Homo sapiens: one gene and its partners. The main gene of each other region encodes a partner of the protein of the gene in region 3 in a complex. Each region holds a gene or a part of one and is shown on either strand. Other genes may lie near its edges. A codon is read from its position in the direction of its gene.

Region 1 (8,065 bases), on a different chromosome or scaffold from region 3:
CTACATGTACAAACACCAGTGAGGTCACCGCTCACATTGAGGCTTAGATTATTGTAGCACCCACAAGGCTCCCTGTGGCGCCTTCTAATTCATAACCTTCCCATTGTGGGGAACTAATCACAGTTTATTTACGTACTCCCCTATTGCTAGGCACTTACATTGCTTCCAATCTTTCACTCTTACAAATAGTGCTTCAGTGAACTTCCTTGTACATACACATTTGTCTACATCTGATTGCCTCCTTCAGATAAACTTTTAGAAGTTGTGAATTTCAGTACGCTCATATCCACAGGGTCAGAGGGTATGAGCTTATTGAAATGCTCCCAGTTGGCCGGGCATGGTGGCTCACGCCTGTAATCCCAGCACTTTGGGAGGCTGAGGCGGGTGGATCACCTGAAGTCAGGAGTTCCAGAGCAGCCTGACCAACATGACGAAACCGCATCTCTACTAAAAATACAAAAATTAGCTGGGCATGGTGGCATGCAACTGTAATTCCAGCTACTCAGGAGGCTGAGGCACGAGAATCACTTGAACCCAAGAGGTAGAGGTGAGCCCAGATGGCACCATTTCACTCCAGCCTGGGCAACAAAGCGAGACTCTGCCTCAAAAAAAAAAAAAAAAAAAATGTTCACAGTTAATGACTTTTTTCATTCGTTGGTGTCCCAGCCGTGTTGTGTTTGTACAGTGCAATTAAAGTATTGTATTCATGAATTCCCACCCCCCAACCAGGTTCCGGGGCTTGCGTTCAGAACTGGAACCTTTCTGTATCCCCATCCCTACTTGAAGATGGGATTAAAAAATTGAGGTCTTCTACCTATCTTTGACATGTCAAGGTTAGTCAAAACCAATTTAAATTGGTTTCACTTTTAGAGTAAACAAGACTTAGTGCAAAGCCAAGCAGAACTATGAAACTCATCTCTAGGTACTTCTGAGATAACTGATAGGGTTGAATGAGTTCATATATGAGAAAGGGTTTTAAAAATTTCTGCCAGCGGCCGGGTGTGGTGGCTCATGCCTGTAATCCCAGCACTTTGGGAGGCCAAGGCAGGCGGATCATGAAGTCAGGAGTTTGAGACCATCCTGGCCAACATGGTGAAACCCTGTCTCTACTAAAAATACAAAAATTAGCTGGGTGTGGTGGCACCCGCCTGTAGTCCCAGCTACTCGGGAGGCTGAGGCAGGAGAATCGCTTGAACCTGAAAGGCGGAGATTGCAGTGAGCCAAGATCACGCCACTGCACTCCAGACTGGCAACAGAGTGAGACTCTCTCGAAAAAAAAAAAAAAAAAATTCCACCCGCCTGTTAAAGCAAACATAGGGGTCAAAGGAGGGTGGTTGTTTTTGTCACACTGGCTTTTTCTGTTAATCCCTGGAGCCCTCACATCCCTTATTAGGGTAAGTTTAGTAACCCTGTGCTTTAAATGGCCTGTCTCTCAGGGGCTTGCTTCTGACATGTCTGATGAGCGCATTCCTGCTGTTGCTCCTGGCTATTACAAGGTGTCGCTGTGGAAGACTATTCCTGTACAGCTGTGTGAACCTGCCTCGTCACGGCTTCCTCTGCAGTGCTCTTGAATATCCCGGTTCCTGCTTAGGCCACAGCAGTGAGTCCAGGGAGAAGCATCCTTCTACTCCCTCACTGTCCAGGTTGGCTGAAGATGCTCTGCACTTGACCTCCTGACACTAACTTCCTTGCCTTTTCCCATGGCAAGAGCAAGTCATGGACTCTGAACTACTTCCTCTCCCTTTTTTCTATTTATTTTATTTTATTTTATATTTGTGATGGAGTCTCGCTCTGTCACCCAGGCTGGAGTGTGGTGGTGTGATCTTGGCTCACTGCAACCTCTGCCTCCCAGGTTCATGCAATTCTCCTGCCTCTACCTCCCAAGTAGCTGGGAATACAGGTGCCCACCACCATGCCCGGCTAATTTTTGTATTCTTAGTAGAGGTGGGGTTTCACCATGTTGGCCAGGCTGGTCTCTTAACTCCTTACCTCAAATGATCCACCCACCTCGGCCTCCCAAAGTGCTGGGATTATAGATGTGAGCCACTGCACCCAGCCCTTCCTCTCCCTTTCTCTTTGGGGTTCCCTTCACAAACAGGTGAGGCAGCTTTTTCAAGGGCATTCCAAGCACAAAAGACCTTGTTGTACCTAAATACTATAAGGGACCTGTCATTGAGGACGAACCATCACAGCAAGAGGAATTATCTCGTGCCGCATCTTCGCATAACTGACAGGATCCCTGGCAAGGATGTCTCAATGCAGAAAGTTGGCTAAGTGAACTGCAGTATCTACCCTGGACCTAAAAGAACTTGCTAATGTTTTCAAGACTACAATTCAGAGGCTGTCTGATTTAATCTTTGCATTTACAAAAACACCCTTTTACGTACATTAAATGTGGAATAAAACTAAATATCCGTGTGTGTGTTGTGTATCCTGGTGTATATAGTATTATATTTTATGAAGTATTTCATTCATTCCAGAAATAGCTCTCCAGACCCATGGTGTACCAGATCTGTAGAAACTGAAATGCATTCATATGTCTGGGGGTGTGTGTAACGCTACCGTGTATTTGATGAAACTTTTCATTGACTTACTCCACAGATACTATTTTTCTATCTACTGGGGATACCAAAAAGAGCCAGTGCCCTTGAGGAACCAAGTCATGTCAGTGCTTCTTAGTTTTTAAAAAGTGGGTAAGTTGAGTACTTTCCAGATGTTTGTTTATTTTTCAAGACAGTCTTGCTCTGTCACCCAGGTTGGAGTACAGTGGCGTGATCTCAGCTCACTGCAGCCTCTGCCTTCTGGGTTCAAACAATTCTCGTGCCTCAGCCTTCTGAGTAGCTGGGATTACAGGTGTGTGCCACCATGCCCGGCTAATTTTTGTTTTTTCAGTAGAGAAGGGGTTTCACTATTTTGGCCACGCAGGTCTCGAACTCCTGACCGCAAGTGATCTGCCCACCTCGGCTTCCCAAAGTGCTGGGATTACAGGCATGAGCTACCAGGCATGAGCCACCGTGGCTGGCCCCACATTTTGTTTGAGACAGAGTCTGTTGCCCAGGCTGGAGTGCAGTGGTGTGATCTTGGCTCACTGCAACCTCCGCCTCCCGGGTTCAAGCAATTCTTCTGCCTCAGCCCCCTCTAGTAGCCAGGATTACAAGTGCGCGCCAGCATGCCCGGCTAATTTTTGTATTTTTAGTAGAGATGGGGTTTCACCATGTTGGCCAGGCTAGTCTCGAACTCCTGAGCTCAAGTGATCGCCCACCTCCGCCTGCTGAAGTGCTGGGATTACAGGCTTGAGCCACCACGTCCGGCCCAAATGTTTCTTAAAATAACCTGACCCATGCAAAATAAATTGCCTCCTATGTAATACTTTATTAAAAAAAAAAAAAGATACTGTACATCCGAGTTAGAAATTAAGAGAGAGGCAAGACCAGAATATGCCTGAGGAAGGCTTTGCTTATTTTGCTTATCAGAAATGAGAGAATTATCTCCGAATGGGCCAGTTTCCAACTTGGACCATGTACACCATGTACACAATGCACCGCATTCTGGGAGGGGCGAGGTTGGGAGCAGTAAATGACAAGTGTTTTGCCCGTGTTTCTTTTCTCCTCCAAGTGTGATGTAAAACTTTTCACATGTGCAGAAGCACGCAACCATAGCCACGTGCAGAAGCAGCCGTTTTTGCAAATGAAAATATTTCCCAGAAGCACAACAAATACAAGACTAACAGGTGTCGGGCAGCTCCAAGGCACACATGTGGTTCTCATCAGCTGTCTTCCTCCTGTTTTAAATCTAGGTCTTCCTGTAACAGTGGGAAAAAAAAGATTTCTCCCGAGGCCGCCGAGCTTGCCTTTCCATCCCGTCTCACAAGAGCATTTCCAACAGAGCTCCCAGAGAGAGGGGAGCAATTACCAAGGCAATAAACAGGGTGGAGGGAGGAGGGGCGCCCTTAAACTTGACATCTGCGGTTCTGGGCTTAACCCCGAAGTCTAGGTGACCTTGGGCCTCCGTTTCCTCCTCTGTGACGTGTTTGGTTAAGAGAATGAGCATCTCAGTTTTACAGAATCTCAAGGCAGAGGCGGGTAGAAGGGTCTTTCAATCACGGGGTTCTCTGCCGGTGGGGGGGCGGGGGGACTGTGCCCCCACAAGGGACGGCGGCAATGACTGCAGATTGGGGGAGGGGGCGCTTCGGAGGCCAGAGATGCCGCTCAACTTCCGACAGATCGGGGGACCCGCCCCGAAGACAGAGCGATCCCGCCCAAATGCCAGTGGTGCCGAGGTGGAGAAGCCGCCGCGTAGACGCAGATTTGCAACCTCCGGCTTTCCCAGCTACGGCGGGCGGCTTCTGCCAGAGGCGCTTTGCCGCCTCACGTTTTCGCGATCGGGGTCGCGCGTGGCGGTGCAGACCCCCGCCCTGCCACCACACCCATTCCCACACCCTCTGAGGGGCGGGGGGGCCGCGGCGACACCCCCGGACTCCGATGACCCTTCTGCGCGCAGAATCACAACGTGGACGTCTGGTTCCCTCGCCCTCACAAAAAACTCGGCAGCTGCTCAGCCTGCGACTCCCGTCCCCCAGTCACGCGCCGGGAAGGCTCTCCCAGAGGAAGGATTTTCCCGCCGCCCTCCCCGCCCCGAGGTAGCCGCTGCGAGCGTCCGGGTTCAAGGACTCTTTGCGCGCGCGCTTCCGTCAGAAAGCCCCGCCCCGTGACCTGGACGGGGGCCGTTGCCCCGCCCAACCTCCTCCCAACGGCTGCCTAGGCCGGGCGGCTGGGCGGGGCGTCACGGGCGGACGAGTGCGCCTGCGCGCGCTTGCGCGGAGGCGCGGGGCGTGGCACACGGGCAGCCCCGCCCAGGCCTGGCGTCTCCGCCCGCCCCATCTCCCAACCTCCTCAGCGTGGCGCCGACGCTGCGTGCGGCGCGGACTACCCAGAGTACTCCGCGCGGGGGCAGCTCACTGGAGTTTGGTTCTCGAGGCGGCGGCAGCGAGCGGCGGCGGCTCCGGCGGCTCCTCCTCCTCCTTTGGTGGCGGCGGCGGCCCGGGACCGAGACCCGGCCCCGGCTCCCCTCTCCGCCACCCCGCGCGCCCCCAACCCCCCGGCGCCGCGGGGAACATGCGGCTCCGGCTCCCGGAGGCCGGCGAGTGAGTGACCCCCGTCCCCCGCCTCAGCCCGCCCGCCCGCTGGCCCGGCCGCAACCCCCCGCCTCGCCCAGGCAATGACAGCGGCTCCGGCGTCTCCGCAGCAGATCAGGGACCGGCTGCTGCAGGCCATCGACCCCCAGAGCAACGTAAGTACCCGCCGCGCGAGCTGGGACGGAGGCCGCATGGGCCCGGGACCCTCCCCCTCTCCTGTACCCCTCGCCCACCGGGCTTCGGGGGACCCGTCTGGCGCCCACCTCCCCTCGAGGGCCGCTGCCATCCCTGCCTCTCGCTTCTCGGGCCCGGGCCGGGGGCAGGTCGGGCAGCCCGGCAGCGCTCGGTACGTGAGGCCGAGGCTTCCGTGCGGCCTGGGCGGAGGAAGCAGACGGGGGAGCTGAGGCTAGAGTTTTTCCTCCCTTTCTGCTCCAGCTCTACGACCCTCACTGCTCTGGACGAAGCTTCTCTGCCTCGCCCTCCCTCCGGGACCCGAGACCCCCGGGAAGCCCTCCCGGAGCGGGAAGGGGAGGGAGAAGGGCTGTGAAGCAACTGGTGTCCGGGGTATGACTCGGGGAACCTATGTCTCCCATGTCTTGGCCTCCTGGGTGATCAGGGAAGTCCTTCTTCCCCCTCCTCTCGGCTGGCAGCACCTTCCTGGCTTCGGAGAGAACCCCCAGTCTGTTTTGCCCCTGGCCGGGTACCTAGGGTACGTGGAGAGTCTGTCTCCCTTCTGTGACTAGACACGCCTTTGCCAAAACCCTCTTGGGGTCGCTGCCGACGATAGATGATCTCGGGGAGGGTGGGATCCTTCCTGTTGCCTTTCTGGGCCTCAGTACCCATTGCGTCTCTGACCAAGCCAGAGCTCCATTTTTTAGGTAGTGAATTAAAGAGGACTTTTCTCTCCCGTTTACCCAAGAGCTCTGTTTCAGTAGGCTCTTTCCCTCACCTGGGGGTCTCAGCCTGGTGGTTTTTGACCCAGACTGTCGGGGTTAACTCCAGAGTGTCGCTTCCTCGGGTGCCCCTTTGCTGAGGCTACTGTTTGCGGAGGGACCGCCCCCTCCCCTTCCGTGTGTGTGTGTGTGTTGTTGCGGGGGTGGGGGGGTGGGGGGGAAGACTGATCTATTCTCATATTTTCTCCAAGAGTTTCTTGGCAGTAGGGGTCATTCTTCCCGCGGCAGGAGCAGGGCGGTAGGAAGATGCAGTAGCATCCAGGTATGAGGGGAGGCCCTGCTTCCCAGGAAGTGGCCATTGAGATCACTTTTTAATGTGCTGTGAATGGAAGAAAAATATCATCTTTGGCTTGGCCAGGTAACTCAGGTTTCTCTCACCGTAGGGGTTTTTGCTTTCATTTTTACATGAGCTTGGCTGATTACTCTTAGCAATATGCTTCACTCTGATGATGTTTTGGGAATAATTCACATTGGCTTATACAATTTTTGGTTAAGACTGAAGGGTTATGAGTTTTTTCGAAGGCTCTGGTTGCTGTGATATAAGTACTTCTCTTATCCCTGGTATTCAGGTCCCATTAACATTGACTTGATGGTAATTGTCTTTAACAAATGTTATATTGTACATTTTTGTTATGACTTTGGGGGTGGAGTGGGCACAAGCTATATAAAACCTTCTAGAATGTCCTTTTTGCAGTAACTGGTGTCACTGCAATTTTAAGACTGAAATATTAGAGGATAAAACTAGTGACATGAAAAAAATAGCCTTGGTGACTTGTGCATCTTTTGTGGAGCCGGAAGGTAATTTTTTTAATTTCACGCACTCGCTTTCCTTCTGGAGAGTCTGAGAGGTTGCTGAGATATTAGCACTGATCCTTAATGCCACCTCAGAGAGCTTTGGGATCAGGCGGCACTTTGACAGGCGATCACAGTGTTGTAGATTAGGTCACTCCAGTGACCTCACAGTTTCCAGTATTGTATAGGGTTCTAATCTAAAGGGTTCCTTGAGGCAGAAGAAAGGAGGATGGAACAAATCTTAGTTTTGTGTGTCTTAGCACATGCAGAAATGCTATATAGGTCCCTGGTTATGTTAGCTGGCATGGAATTTGCATTTCATACCGCTTATTTTCAGGGACTTTAGTGATGATCTTGGGCAGAGTCCTACTAACATGGGGTGGATGGATTTGGGAAGTTATCTTCTTGACTATGAACAATGAGGAAAGTGCCTCCTTTGTGATTGACCCTCTGAGCGCTGTTATGGGCCATTTGACAGGACCGTTTGCTTTGAGCAAACACCATGCAGAAACACAGAGCCGCGGTGGACAGGATTGCTGGCGGAGGTGATGGTGAGAGCCGGGCATGTCAGTGCGTCTGCAGTTTCTCTTGGATCAATGTGGGCTCAGGTGAGAGCAGGTGGCTCCAGCACAGGTGCTGCCGGCGTGCCGCTCTCTCCTCTCTGCCCTGCCCAATGATGAACTCCACTACTGGATATTTAGTTGACACATATTTAAGATGCTCATGAAAAAAAAAAAAACGGGGACAGTGTTGAAGAGCCAACACTAAAATTAAACCTCTTCTGAGAGAAGCGGCAGAGAATTGTGTCATGTAATGCTTACCTTTATGGGCATGCAATTATGGTTAACAAACTTAGCTATTGCTTGCAAAATCGGTGTCAGGAACTGACCTAATATCCACAAGTATCTGGAAAGTTAGGGAAGTGACGAAGTCGTGTTTACCAACCATCTCCTTGACAAAGGAATTCTTAGGAGGAAAGTAGTTTCTGTGCTCTCACTTTTAGCCCCTGGAGTATGCATTTGAATTCCTATAGCAGCAGGCTCAGAGTTAATAATTTCTGCCAATTCAGTAATAAAGTAAATCCTCTACTCTCCTTTTGAAAAGGCTACTAACAGTTTTTCAGAGCAGTTGGAGCTTTTCTTTTCGTCGTGCACCCTTTCAGCCCAGGGTGTTGAAAATCTCTCCG
Region 2 (7,393 bases), on a different chromosome or scaffold from region 3:
GTATGAGCCATAAAATAAAATAATTGATAAACTTGTCATCATCAAAATAAAAAAACTCTGCTTGCTGAAAGACACTTAAAAAATGAAATGATTAACCACAGACTAGGAGAAAATATTTGTAAAAGACATATCTTATCAAGGACTTATATCTTGTGTGTATTTGTGTGTGTGCACCCTTACAATTCAATAGTAAGAAAACATGCCAATTTAAAAAATGGGCAAAAATTTTGAACAGACAGTTCGCCAAAGAAAAGATATACATGGCCAGTAAACACATGAAAGATACCCAATACTAAGGAAATGCAAATTAAAATCATTATACAGATATTAGAATAGCAAAAAGTAAAAATTAAAAGGATAACACCAATTTGCAGATTGAGGGCAACTATACCTCCGATAGATTGCTGAGAAATGAAAAATAAGCAGCCTCTTTAGAAAACTGCTTGGTAGTTTCTCATATAGTTAAACATATAATTATTATAATGTCCAGCAATTTTGTCACTATGTTGTTATCCAAAAGAAATGAAAACATATGTCCATACAATTGACTTGCATGGGAATGTTTATAGTATCTTTGTTAAGAATCACCTCAAACTGAAATAACCCAAATGTCTATTAACCAGTGAATGGATACATGAATTACAGTATATTCATACAATGGAATATTCCTTATCTGTAAAAAGGAACAAAGTATTATACATTGAACAACATTGATGGACTTCAAAAGTATTATGCTAAGTGAAAGGAACCAGACACCAAAAACTACATACTTTCTAATTTCATTTATATGACATTCTGCAAAAGGTAAAACTATATGAACAGGGATCAGATCAGTGGTTACTAGAGGATGGGGATAAAGGGAAGGAATTGAAATAAAAAAAAGTTGTTTGGGGTGATGAAATATTCTACATCTTAATCCGGGTGGTAGTGGTTTTATGTCAGTATGTATTTATCAAAACTCTTATAACTATTCACCTAGAGTTAATTTTATTCTATGTAAAGTATCCCTCAATAAATCTACATTTTAAAAAATCAATAGGGTGGAAACTAAAAATTTCTGCTTGTAATTTAGGTTCAAATGACAGCGATGTTTTTTATAATGTGCCAAGATCCTAAGGGAGGCAAGAAGTCGGTTACCGTGTGTCTTTGCCCATTTCATCTCCCCTGCTCTTTCTTTCTTTGCTCACTAGCTATGGAGCACACAGGCTGCCTTCCTCTCTCTAATTCAGAAAGATCATGGCAGCCCCACGCTCTTTGCATTTGCTGTCTCCCAGATCTCTGCAGAATTCACTCCTTCATATTTTGTTTCCAAAGTTAACCTTCTGTGAGAGGCTACCCTGACCACCCTGTGTAAAGTAGCTATTCCCCAACCCACGTCACTATCACATTAATCTGTATTATACTTTCCCCCATAGCCCTTACCACTATTCGAAGTTTTTACTTGTTTGTATACTTCTTGTCTGTGTCTCTCTAGAACACCTTCTAGAAAGAACACTTTTTTCAAAGGCCCCACTGGCTTTTGTCTGTCTTTTTAGCCTTCTAGACCAGTGCCGGCACAACAGACACACAATATACAGATTTATTCAACGAGCATATTCCTTGTTAAGCTGTAGTAGGCATCTTTAAGTAATAAGCTTTCCATTGAGATTTTGCCAATATAGTCATATAATTAAATGTTTAACACACATCATATTGTCACTAGCCCTTCTCATGATATGGACTTCATATCCATTATTCATTTGAAGTTTATTGGAAAGAACACTAGATTGATAGTCAAGAGTCCAAGATTCTAGCCTTGATTCTGCTACTAACTGTTAAGACACTGCCCCTTTGGGCCCAGTAATTCTATTTCTAGAAATTTATTTCAAAGAACAAAATTGGACACATGCACAAACATATATGTACTGGGATCTCATCATCCTGTGTAGTTACACTGGATCAAATTTGGAGAAAAATAATTTAACACAATGAGGATCTGGCTAAAGAGACTGTGGTATAACCACCAAAGCCACGCTATGAATTTATTTGAAAGTGATGATTGTATTCATTTTGTTTCTTATTCAATAAACACTTATTGAGTATTTGCCAATTTCAGGCACCGTTGTATGTAGGTTCAAACACAACAGCAGTAAATGAAACAAAGGTCCCATGCTCATAAACCTGATATTTTTGATGGATAAGAAAGGCAATAAAATACATAAATATACTATGTAAGATGATTTCAGATGATGAGAGGTTCTATGAAAAAAAGATAATACATAGTAAGGGTTTCAGGGGCATCTCCCAAGAGAAAGATTAGGGATGCGCTATTTTGCATAGAGTAGTGTAACCCCAGAAGAACTCTTTGAAGTCACATTTGACCAGAAACCTGAATGAATTGAGGAAATGAAGCCGGGCGCGGTGGCTCACGCCTATAATCCCAGCACTTTGGGAGGCCGAGGCGGGCGGATCACGAGGTCAGGAGATTCAGACCATCCTGGCTAACACGGTGAAACCCCGTCTCTACTAAAAATACAAAAAAATTAGCTGGGCGTGATGGCGTGTGCCTCTAGTCCCAGCTGCTGGGGAGGCTGAGGCAGGAGAATGGCGTGAACCTGGGAGGTGGAGCTTGCAGTGAGCCGAGATTGGGCCACTGCACTCCAGCCTGGGTGACAGAGCAAGACTTCGTCTCAAAAAAAAAAAAAAAAAAAAAAAAAAAAAAAAGGAAAGAAGGAAATGAGACGTGTCAATATCTGTGCAAAGAGTTCCAGGCAAATGCATTGGCCCCAAGGCCGGGATGTACTTGGCAATTTTGTAGGGCCTGTGATATAGGCCAGGGGAAGGATGTCAGATTTTATTCTAAAAGTCATAGAAAGCCTTGGAGGATTTTGAATAGAGGAGTGATAAGACCGGTCTTATATTTTAAGAAGGTGTGGTAAATAGACTAAGGGAGGACAAAAAATCAAAGAAGTCCAGGTGAGAGATAATGGTGGCATGGCATAGGACCATAGCAGTGGGAACGGTGGTCAGTCATATTTGGAACTTTATTTACTTATTTTTAAATAGATCTAATGCAAAAGGCTGGTATGGTAGTTTCGGTGGGGTATGTGAGAAAGGAGAAAAAGGTGATTCCTTCGATTGAACATTTGCAATTGAGTAAAGTGCAACTGGGGAAAGATGTCTGTCACCACTGGATATGAGGGTCTGAAGTGCAGAGGAAACGGTGTTCCAGGGCCTGCATGTAATCATCCAGCTGATATCTGACTGAGAAGTGGTTGGAGAACTGAGTCCTGGGGCAATCCATTAATCAAATGTGCCAAATGCTGCTGACAGATGGAGTAAAATGAGGACTGGGAACGACCATTGGAAGTCACTGGTGCAGGATACATTGGGGTCAGCGGTGAGGAGAAAAGCTGGATTGGGTTATGCTCAACGTAGATGGATTTCTTCAGGAAATAAATTGATACGTGCGAGGGATTTAAAATGGGGGAGTCCGGAAGTGGTGGTTCACGCCTACAATCCCAGCACTTTGGGTGGCCGAGGCGGGCGGATCACTTCATATCAAGAGCTCGAGATGAGCCTCGCCAACACGGTGAAACCCTGTCTCTACCAAAAATACAAAAAAAAGAAAAAAAAATAGGTGAAACCCCAACTATTCGGGAGGCTGAGGCACGAGAATCGCTTGAATCCCGGAGACTGAAGTTGCAGCGAGCCGAAATCGCGCCACTGCAGTCCAGCCTGGGCGAAAGAGAAAGACTCCGTCTCAAAGAAAAAAACAACAAAAAAACCCTGCATGTCTATATTTTCGAATTTGTATGTAAGACGTCTTAATTGTATGCGTTAAATTAAAAAAGGACAAAAGGAATGGAACTACCAGCAGCGACTAAGTCAGTAAAAGAGTGGTAATGGGGAAGGGGGTGGAATATACGCAGGCGCAATAGCAAGCGTTTCTTTTGGAGGTTATTTTCGTGTCATAAATTTCTAAATTCACGTTAAGTCTTACAAGAGCATGTTAAACATTAAAACATAAGATTGTTTCTGGTCAATAAGGGGTCTATAAAAAATAAAGCAATAAGGTGTCTTGTTCAATTTTATGCCTTAATTCAAAAAGAAACGAAGAAACGGAACCCTCAGCTACGACTTTTAAAAGTCAGTAACGGGTGGATGGGAGGAGTCAAACATACGTAGGCGCAACAGCGAGGGATCGGTCTGAGGCGGAGCTAGAATTTCGTTAAAGGACAGCTCTTACAGCCAATCAAGGACAGAGTCGGTGGCTTCTTCCCGGAGGAGACCGGAAGTTGGTTTCGGCTGCAGAGGGGAAGGCGGCTACCAGTGTAAAGCCAGAGCTGAGGTAAGTGGGCGGCAACGGTTTGGGGCCGCCGCCTGTGTGCGTTTTTTTCTTCCGGACCCCGCAGCTTCCTCTGTGCTGGGCTGGGAACTGGGGAGGCATGGCTGAGTTCGGCCTCCAAAGGCGGTCTTTCGTCTTTCTCTCCCGAGTCTCTCCGAGAGTGCGGTCTCTCCGAGAGCGCGGAGGCCTCGGGGTGGACAGCCTGGAGGAGGGGGCTCTAAGCGTGGCAGTCTCGGGGCTTCCTCCGTGTTGGGACGCCGAGCCGGAGTGGAGGTTGGGAGACCTGGCGTCTAGTCCCCGCGCCGCTGTTTTTCTAAGCTGTGTGGCCTTGGGCGAGTCATTTGCCCTCTCCGGCTCTTTGTAACATGAGAGTAGCCCTCCCTGCCCTTCCTTCTTCTGGGAGCAGTTATGAAACAGCTGAGGTATGGGGGCAGGCGAGGGCGGTAGATCCCAAGCCTAATCGTCAGGTCCATCTGGAGAGGTTTTAAAAGCGACATTCTAGGGCCCATTCACAGTAGACAGAATGAATCAAATCTCTGGGGCTGGGACCCTGGAATGTCTGTCGTCTTCTGGTGAAGCTCCTTCTCCCCCAGTAGAACAAACACTAGATGTTGGATCTTGAGTTAAGAACCAGCTCTGATGCTTGGCTCTGCTTTTATTAAAAATAAGACCTCCATCACCTTTGAAAAGTTCCATCTAGAGAGACAGTAGAGAAAGAAATATAATTTTTGTGATATGCCAGTCCTTATTGTACAGTTAGATGCTTCTCGGCTTAGGGATATAAGAGAGCTTGCCCTTTGGAGCTAAAGGGACCTGGGATAAGAATTCCTGTTGTGCCATTTATTAACCTTTTGATCTGGGGCAACACTTCCCCTCATTGAGACTTCGGATCCTCACTTCTAAAATGAAATTGATAATAGAACTTAATTCGTGGGACCGTGTGGTGGCTCACGCCTGTAATCCCAGCACTTTGGGAGGCCGAGGTGGGCGGATCACTTGAGGTCAGGAGTTCCAGACCAGCCTGGCCAACATGGTGAAAACCTGTCTTTACCGAGAAATACAAAAATTAGCTGGGCGTGGTGGTGCGCACCTGTAGTCCCCAGCTACTCAGGAGGCTCAGGCAGGAGAATCCCTTGAACCCGGGAGGCAGAGGTTGCAGTGAGCCCTGATGGTACCACTGCACTCCAGCCTGGGAGACAGATTGAGCCCTTGTCTCAAAAAACAAAACTAACAACAAAAACCCCAAAAACCTTAATTCATAGAATTGTTAATGAAGATTATGTTACAGAGGCCATAAAAAATGGTACCTGTCATGTAGTTGGCCTTAGGAAAATGGCAGCCGCAATACAGGAATGCACATCGTGTAGGAAAGTACAGAGCAGCACTCCTCACCTAAAAAGGTTTGAGTGGGATGAAACGTGAGCTGTCAAAAATTGTATTTTCTGCCGGGCACGGTGGCTCACGCCTGTAATCCCAGAACTTTGGGAGGTCGAGGCAGGTGGAACACGAGGTCAGGAGATCGAGACCATCCTGGCTAACACGATGAAATCTCGTCTCTACTGAAAATAGAAAACATTAGCCGGGCGTCGTGGCGGGCGCCTGTAGTCCTAGCTACTCAGGCGGCTGAGGCAGGAGAATGGCGTGAACCCGGGAGTCCGAGCTTGCAGTGAGCCGAGATCGTGCCACTGCACTCCAACCTGGGTGACAGAGCGAGACACTGTCTCAGGGAAAAAAAAAATGTATTTTGAAGTACCAGATCACTGTTAATTCTTTGATTTTGGTAATTGTGCTTTGGGTAGAAGAAAACATTCTTGTCACGAGAAAACACACTGAAGTATTCAGGGGTAAAGGAATGAAAAACCAATAAAGCAAATGAAGGAAAATGTTAACATTTGGAGAATCTGAGTGAAGAATATGAAGTGTTTTTTGTGTATTCATGCACTTTTTCTGTAATCTGAATTTATGTTAAAAGTTTTAAAATGTCTGGGTGTGGTGGCTCACGCCTGTAATCCCAGCACTTTGGGAGGCCAAGGCAGGAGGATTGCTTGAGCTCAGGAGTTTGAAACAAGCCTGAGTAACATGGCAAAACTCTGTCTCTACAAAATATACAAAAATTAGCCGGGCTTGGTGACATGCCTGTAGTCCCAGCTGCTTGGGAGGTTGAGGTGGGAGGATCGCTTGAGCCTAGGAGGGCGAGGCTGCATCATCCTATGCACCACTGTGGCATAGTGGAAACTCAGGGCTGCGCCACAGCTGCCCTCAGTACCTCACGAATTCTAAGTATAATATTGCTTCTAGTAGGATACTTGCCCCACCCGATGTTAGAGTGTGTTATATCTTGAAACTCTGATAACACCAATCTAAAGGAGCACTTAAGGATCTTCTCATTGGATGGTATACCTAGGCTTAAGGTAGAATAAGTAGAGGTTATTATGGCCATAGATACTGGGTTTGAACCTGGGGTTTGACATTTCTGTGATAGTTGTAGAGAAGTTAATGTGTCCATACAGGCCAGGCGTGGTGGCTCACGCCTGTAATCCCAGCACTTTGGGAGGCCAAGGTGGGCGGATCACCTGAGATGGGGAGTAAAGAGACCAACCTGGCCAACATGGCAAAATCCCGTCTCTACTAAAAATACAAAAATTAGCCAGACATGGTGCACGCCTGTAATCCCATCTACTTAGGAGGCTGAGGCAGGAGAATTGCTTGAGCCCAGGAGGCGGAGGTTGCAGTGAGCTGAGATCTGAGATTGCACCACTGCACTCTAGCCTGGACATCAGAGCAAGACTCCATCTCAAAAAACAAACAAAAGTTAATGTGTCCATATAAAATTGCATAGTATACTGTGACAAAAAGGGTATGGAACTGAATCATCATTTCATTCAGGAACTTTGGATAATAATGTGTTTAGGATTTAGCAATGTTAATTTTGTCAGAGTGTTTATGAGAGATACAAGTAAGTGTTTGCTATTGGAAATAAATCTATAACATAAAACAAAAGTGATTGTGATATGAGATTGGGAGACAGCCTGTGTAGTTTGGTTATGGAAGAGTAAAGAAATGGGG
Region 3 (7,263 bases):
TCCAAATTAAATACACCTATCTTCCCTACCAATTTCTCTCACCTAGTCTTGACCTCTCAAACCTCCTATTTCTAATAAGTATTTCCACTGGGTTTCTCTGCCATTGTTTCAATGACAGAACTCAAAGGCAACTGTTTCCTCTTTTTAATATTTAATTTGTATTGAAAGTCTCCTAGTCAACCAATCTAACTTCAGATTCTTACTTTCCTTTGATCTTCATATTCTGCTAATACTACAAATCTTTCTCTTTTCCTTCTATCACTGTTGCTTAGTTCAACCAATTATCTCACACCAGAATTATTACAATAGTCTTCTTGTTGTTTTCCAGTTCACCAGGTTATTTATTTTAACCTGATCAAAACATTTAAGCTTACTCCACCACTGTCTTCAAGATAAATCTCCAACTCAGGCTGTTTTGAAGCTTTCAATAATCTAAGTCAACTCTACTGACTCGTTTTCCACTACTCCTTCATATTTATCTAACTAGTCATAAAGTCACTTATGACTAAATGGCTTTGCCCAGGTTTTGCTAATTGTAATGGAGCAATAAGTGCTCAGATGCTATACAAACCTAGATCCTGATCCTAGCTCTATTAATCCAAGCAGCATTTTTCATTTTTAAATTGGATACATTCTCCTATTATAGCATTGTTGTAATAGAGGAAACACACACAAAAAAATATTCAACACAGTGTCTATCTTTTCCATCCTTCAAAAGCTTTTAAGATCCATTTAGTCAACAAAAATTTATGGAAAATAACTAAAGTACTGCATATAAACACTACAGAGACATAGTGAATGCGACATAGCTTCTGCACTCACGGTTTTCAGAGGGTAGAACAAATGTTAAAAGTTATACAAATAATTCTGATTAGGATAAATGCTAAGAAGATTCCCCCTATTTTGGTTCACATCACTCCATATTCCAATTTACATCAGAACCTGAAGCTGAAAATACTCAATTCATTATAACTCCCTAACCACATACTGTTTTTCCATCACTTAAATGTCTCCTGAGTATTTGACATTTTTTAACCTCCTTTAGGAGTATCTCTTTGTAAACATGATGGTGCTTACACACAGTAGGCACTCATACTAGTTATCCTAAAGGCTTTTCTCCAAAATCCAATTATCATTATGCCTAACCTGGAGTTAAGGCCATATTCACTCTGTCCTTATTATCCTTCTAGTTACAAGACATGTATGAATATGCAAAATTTTCCCTAAAATAAGATTTCTATCCAGCAGCATCATTACAATTTGATTTCGTAAAACCTCAAAGGAGTAGTTCCCTGAGGAAGGCTGGCTGGCAGCCCAGGCAAGTCCCTGCAGGGTAGAATTTATCTTGGTGAATTCAACACTTAGAGGCTGGTCCTCTCAGCTTAAAAACTAGTGTTATTCACCCAGGGTAGATCAGTTTTATCACAAGTAGATTCACACTCTTCAAGTGTACAAATTCTGATGTATTAAGAAAAATGCCAAGTTATTAGCTTACAGTGAGGAAAAAAAAAACTGGCAAGGAAACCAGGTACTTAGGTTTTCCTATCAGCATGTTTTCTCTCTAGCCCCTTATCTAGGACATTAAATCACAATCAGACAATGAGAAACATAACTATCAATGGAAAACTATTTAGCAGAAAACAATCTAACTCGTAATGGTAATAAGTACACCCATTGCCGCATGGGAATACCCACTGACGTCTTGGTCAACGGGATGCACATATTATGTCAGTCCCCTATGGTTATAATAAAGCTGAAAAATTCTTATTGCCTAGTGACATCGTAGCAGTACTAACGCTGTAGCGCAATGCGTTCCTTAGTGCTTGTGGTGATGCTGCTGTAAATCAACCTACCACACTGCCAGTGTATGAAAGCATAGCACATACAATTATGTGCAGTCCATGACACTTGATAATGATACTAAATGACTTTGTTACTGGTTTATGTATTACTGTTTTATCGTTATTTTACATTGTACTTCTACTTATTAAAACAAAAAAAAAAGTTATCGCCAAAACCATGCATTTCTCAGAACATGACCCCTTCATTAGGGGCCCATGACTGCGCATCCTCTGGCTTTGCTTCTACTTTCCACTCAGGCATAGTGTGGAGGAAAAATAACCAGAAGGAACAAAGCTGGGGAGCTACTTACTAGACTTGGCCTTTAATAGAGAGTAGAATTTGGGGGAGACATTAAAAAGGACTTGTAGGCCGGGCACGGTGGCTCACACCTGTAATCCCAGCACTATGGGAGGCCGAGGCGGGAGGATCGCTTGAGGCCGGGAGTTTGAGACCAGCCTGGACAACATGGTGAAACCCCGTCTCTACTAAAAATACAAACATTAGCCGGGCGTGGTGGAGGGCGCCTGTAATCCCAGCTACTTTGGCTCAGACAGGAGAATCGCTTGAACCCGGGAGGCGGAGGATGCAGTGAGCAGAGATCGCGCCACTGCACTCCAGCCTGGGCGAAAGGCACTGTCTCCAAAGTAAAAAAAAAAAAAAAAAGAAAAGAAAAAAGACTCAAATAAGCGGAAAGACATACGAGGATTAGAAGATTTCCTATCATAAAGATGTCCCCAAACTGATGTATTCTGAGGGATGGCCAAGAGGCAAGAGATGGAAGGATACTCTGGGCCCAAAGGAACGAGCTAAGATGAAAGAAAATCTCTCACCTCACCTCAGCATCGCTCCCGCACCAACCTGAAAGCGCTGGTGAAGGAATACTCTCGGCTGACATTTCATTACAAAAACCCAGTCATCCAGAGCATGAGATCTCCCTTGGTGGATTAAAATTGATGAGGAAAGAAAAAAGCTCCTGCTTCTCCTCCCAACCCCCAAAAGAAAGAGAACCCGTAAGCACCACTGACAAGAAAATAAAACTGTCCTCAGGGAACACGACAGGACCGCGCAGCCCACAAGTCCTGGCGGCCTCACCCGGACAAGAACGATCTTCCCGGTCTCCTCAAGCGAAAGAGTCTGCTCCCTCCCGCACCTTCAAGCACCGCCCGGCAGCCGGCCTCAAACCTCCGAGTTCGCGGTGGCGCCTCCCGAGAGAGCGCTTTATGCCGAAGCCCTGTCTCTCAGTCCGCTCCCCACTTTCAAGTTTTGCCTCTTGGGCCCCTTTCCTCCCTTGCTTTACCTCAAGAAAGAGAAAGACAGAGGCTAATCGAATGAAATTCCTCACCGAATTCACAGCGTCCTGAAGCTGCGTGAGCCGATCCGCCATGTTCCTACCGCAGCAAACAGACGCCAAAACAGCTGCTCTTCCGCGACTGGGCAGCTCTGGCACGCGTCATGGCCAATCACAGGGCTGCGTCCTTGGAACGGGTGGGGTCGGAGAGAACTCCCCGCCCCGTCAGGAGTGGGTGGTACTCCCGAGGCGGCCTTTCTAGAGCGGGCTACACCTGAGGAGAGGCTGGATCTTTTGAGTAACTGGGGGAATGGTCTGGGGTCCAATCGCTTTGAAATACAGTCCAAGAGCCGAAATACTCCCCTTGGGGTTGTTAGGTGTTAAAGGCTTCAGAGATTGTTGGATTCTGCGGGGATTTTTTTTTTTTAAGTAATTTCTCGTACCCTCTCGTGTTTATTTATTGACCAAATTGAAGAGTAAATATATTTATTTTTATTTATTTATTTATTTATTTATTTATTTATTTGAGACGGAGTCTCGTTCTGTCGCCCAGGCTGGAGTGCAGTGGTGCGATCTCGGCTCACTGCCAGCTCCGCCTCCCGGGTTCACGCCATTCTCCTGCCTCAGCCTCCGGAGTAGCTGGGACTACAGGCGTCCGCACCACGCCCGGCATTTTTTTTTTTTTTTTGTACTTTTAGTAGAGACGGGGTTTCACCATGTTAGCCAGGATGGTCTCGATCTCCCGACCTCGTGCTCCGCCCGCCTCGGCCTCTCAAAGTGCTGGGATTACAGGCGTGAGCCACCGTGCTCGGCCAAGAAAAATTAGCTGCACAATTTAGATTTAGAGTTGGGACTTATTGAGAGTTTAAGTGTGAAAAGTGATAATCGAAACTTGGTATTTAAGGAAATTTAGCCTGAGGATAGTCTGGTAAGAAATGAGTTTGGAATCGGCAAATAACAGGTTTGTAGACTTCAAAAAACTCTCATATCCTCTTTCTCAGGCTGATTATCCGTGATTACCTTCCTGTGGCTGCGGGGAAGGTGGAAGACACAGTCCCTGGGGAACTCAGCTTGTTGGATTTATCCCAACACTTACTGTGAAGCACCACTTCTGCTTCACACCAATGCCCCACCCTCAGCCCCAAACAGTCTACAGACTTACTGGAGCCTCATTAAGAACGTGGATGAGGCATGTTCCCCATAATGGGACTAATGAGAAATCACTCTGTAATTTGTTTTCACTGTAACTTGGGGGGATTCTACAACCTTCTCCTCCCACCCTCACTTGAGAGTGTACCTTACGGAATGGCTGCCACATGCCAGGAAGTATATCCAGTGCTCAATTTGCAAAGATGAATAAGCCAAGGACTCACTAAGGAAGGTTTTGCAGTTGTCCAAGATTAAGATGAGCTGGGCCTAGAATAGGGTGTTGACCCTGATAAGCGGGGAAAGAAAGACTAAAATATATTTTTGAGAAAAAAAATTAATATGGATTGGTGACTGATTGGATATAGTTTAGTCCACTCCATAAGAATACTAAGTTTTGCAGCCTGATTGAAGGGAACTTGGGCAGTTGAAGTAGAGAAGCCACTTCAAGACATTCATATTGTGACACAGTTTTTGTCCTGCCATTATCTTCCTAATAGGTCTTCTGTGCCTCCACAGAGACCTCAGGTTGATGTCCAACTATCTCTGCCTGGTTTTCAAGATTTACTATAATCTGGCTCCAGCAAACAGACCCAGCCTCACCTCCTGATAATTTTCTGAGTGAAATAATCTGTTTCAGCCAAGGTCCCTGACCCCTTGGTTTTCCTGGTTCTTCAGCCTCTTTCGGCCACGGATCTTTTTAAGAATCAGATAAAAGCTGTGGACCCTTTCCCCAGACCAGACTCTCAACTTAGCCTACATTTGAAAAGGGGTTTAGGAAGCTCTTGAAGCTGTAGACTTCAAGAATAACCCACCTGCCAAATATAGTCTGTGCATCTAGCTCAGGATTTCTCAATGGCTGCACTCTTGACTTTTCAGGCTAGATTATTCTTTGCTGTGGGATGCTGACCTGTGCACTGTAGGATGTTTAGAGCATCCCTGTCCCTTACCCCTGAGATGCCGGTAGCATCCCCCCAATCCATTTATGCCAACATAAAGTATCTCCAGATAGTCCCAAATGTTGCTGGGGGGCAAAATTGCCCCCAATTGAGAACCACTGGTCTAGCTCTTTCCTCATTCTTTACCTTTCCCAAAGCAATTTCTTTCCTGCTATTTAATCCTTACCCTACCTTTTTAAGCTGTACACTTCTCATATAAATTTTATGAATTGCTAGAGTCCATAGGGACCTCTCCTTTCTTCCTTTCATGATTTGGACACTTTCTCATATGCTTTTCCATTTGCTTCTGTTGCATCGCCAACTGGATTATATGGTTTTAGGAGCAGGAACCCAGTATTACAGATCTCATATTTTAAACACACAATTTTGGTGAGTACTTTCTTTGAAACTTTATATTATTAAAAGTTTCAAAGATATAGAAAAGTAGACAGTATAGTGAACCCTCGCATACCCTTTACAGCTTCAGCAGTGAGCCACTCAGTCAATCTTGTAAATGCTTTGGTTTTTATGACTGTAGCAACTATTTTTTAAGAAAAACACCTTTAGCAATTTTTAAATAACTTTAATACTCACAGTTGCAATTTATTAAATATCTAAACTGTTCTTAGTGCCGGGATGAATAACTATAAATAAGCATTTTTCTATACCACACTCTTTGAAATTCCCTAAACATGTTCTGCTGTTTTACAAAAATGCACACCATATAAAAACACCTATAATTATTTCTTCCTTGTATGAAATGCCTACACTTCCATCCACATCTCCACTTTGCTCCCTTGGTGATTGTCCACACAGTACTCAAACCTTATTTTATTATTTATTTATTTATTTGAGACAGAATCTCACTCTGTTACCCAGGCTGGAATGCAGTGGCACGATCTCAGCTCACTGCAACCTCTGCCCCCAGGGTTCTAGTGATTCTCCTACCTCAGCCTCCAGAGTAGCTGGGATTACAGGTGCCCGCCACCACACCTGGGTAAGTTTTTTGTATTTGTGTAGAGACGGGGTTTTGCTATGTTGGCCAGGCTGGTCTTGAACTCCTGACCTCAGGTGATCCACCCGCCTTGGCCTCCCAAAGTGCTAGAATTACAGGCGTCAGCCACTGTGCCCGGCCTATTATTATTTTTTTTACTTGCCACTATACTAGTGAACAAAATCTTATTTTAAACATCTCTTTATAAAAGCCTTTCCTGAATTCTGAAAGTTAAATGCTCCCAATCTTTAACACAATTGTTCCTTACACTTCTGTTATTGCACTTAGCATACTGTGCTGTAATTATTTGTACATCACGCTAATTCACCCACCAGTCCATGGGCTACTTGCAGGCAGAAAACATATTCTGTTTCCATATTTCCAGTACCTAGCACCTAACTTTTAGCCTGGCACATATTTATCAACCAAATGAATGAGTTTCCTAGCATAATAATTTCCATATAATAGCTACTAAACAAGCATTTACTGAATTTAACTTAATGAACAAAGAATGTAAATTACTACCCACAAAAGAGCATAAGAATTAAAAAATACAGGATGAAGGTGAGATTAGAGTGGGAAAGAATGAATGGGCAAATTTCACAGAGGTTCAATCCTGCCTTTTCCCTGGATCCCCACTCCCAGCTCCATTTAAGGTATTTTAGGTTTTATTTAAAAAGCTAGGGTAAGTTTTTTCCCTTCCTCCTTCTCTCCCTCCTGCCCTTCCTTCCTCTTCTAAATTTTAACAGACTTTTGTTTTATTAGATACAGGGTCTTGCTCTGTCACCCAGGCTGGAGTACAGTGGCATAATCATGGCTCGCTGCAAACTCAAACTCCTAGGCTCGAACAATTCTCCAGCCTCAGCCACCTGTGTATCTAGGACTACAGATGTGCCCCACCATGCCCAGCTAATTTTTTTTTCTGGTTGTGTGTGTGTGTGTGTGTATGTGTGTGTGTAAGAATGGGGATCTCACTATGTTGCCTGGGCTGATCTTGAACTCCTGGTCTCCAGAGATCCTCCTGCCTTGGTCTGCTAAAGTACTGGGATTACAGG

What was found. Proteins that work in one complex are often made in the same cells at the same time.
Region 1: the proteins of MED21 (region 3) and MED26 are in contact, whole or in part, in a cryo-EM structure (PDB 7EMF), measured with the Homo sapiens proteins. Residues at the interface, in NP_004255.2 of Homo sapiens: Ala2 (codon at 3,223), Asp3 (codon at 3,220), Arg4 (codon at 3,217), Leu5 (codon at 3,214), Gln7 (codon at 3,208), Asp10 (codon at 3,199), Ser14 (codon at 3,187), Gln18, Asn21, Gly24, Val25, Gln28, Cys29, Tyr54, Leu57, Phe58, Leu61, Arg64, Thr65, Lys67, Asp68, Val71, Leu72, Asp74, Ser75, Leu76, Pro77, Ser78, Glu79, Glu80; in NP_004822.2 of Homo sapiens: Ser481, Arg482, Asn483, Glu484, Ile485, Ser488, Tyr489, Ser491, Arg492, Ser495, Leu496, Ser498, Ser499, Ser500, Leu528, His529, Ser535, Pro537, Thr538, Asp539, Leu540, Pro541, Gln549, Asp551, Leu552, Ile555, Gln556, Trp560, Gly562, Val563.
Region 2: the proteins of MED21 (region 3) and MED7 are in contact, whole or in part, in a cryo-EM structure (PDB 7EMF), measured with the Homo sapiens proteins. Residues at the interface, in NP_004255.2 of Homo sapiens: Asp3 (codon at 3,220), Leu5 (codon at 3,214), Thr6 (codon at 3,211), Leu8 (codon at 3,205), Gln9 (codon at 3,202), Val12 (codon at 3,193), Asn13 (codon at 3,190), Leu15, Ala16, Phe19, Ile23, Ile62, Ala66, Ile69, Asp70, Ile73, Asp74, Leu76, Pro77, Ser78, Glu79, Ser81, Ala83, Gln86, Ser89, Leu90, Leu93, Glu96, Asn97, His98; in NP_001094286.1 of Homo sapiens: Phe72, Asp73, His74, Lys75, Leu78, Arg79, Asn82, Ile85, Leu86, Phe89, Leu92, Leu93, Leu96, Phe116, Val119, His120, Ile123, Asn124, Tyr126, Arg127, His129, Gln130, Arg132, Glu133, Leu135, Arg136, Met139, Glu140, Gln142, Lys143.

Annotation. Positions count from the first base shown.
Region 1 is NC_000019.10:16,625,096-16,633,160, reverse strand, and holds the start of MED26 (mediator of RNA polymerase II transcription subunit 26), read left to right. Parts: upstream 1-4,956; 5' UTR 4,957-5,217; coding exon 5,218-5,289; intron 5,290-8,065. UniProt on the Homo sapiens protein: Component of the Mediator complex, a coactivator involved in the regulated transcription of nearly all RNA polymerase II-dependent genes.
Region 2 is NC_000005.10:157,139,757-157,147,149, reverse strand, and holds the start of MED7 (mediator of RNA polymerase II transcription subunit 7), read left to right. Parts: upstream 1-4,284; 5' UTR 4,285-4,330; intron 4,331-4,374; exon of another isoform or gene 4,375-4,749; intron 4,750-7,393. UniProt on the Homo sapiens protein: Component of the Mediator complex, a coactivator involved in the regulated transcription of nearly all RNA polymerase II-dependent genes.
Region 3 is NC_000012.12:27,018,543-27,025,805, reverse strand, and holds the start of MED21 (mediator of RNA polymerase II transcription subunit 21), read right to left. Parts: upstream 3,249-7,263; 5' UTR 3,227-3,248; coding exon 3,185-3,226; exon of another isoform or gene 2,935-3,184; intron 1-2,934. UniProt on the Homo sapiens protein: Component of the Mediator complex, a coactivator involved in the regulated transcription of nearly all RNA polymerase II-dependent genes.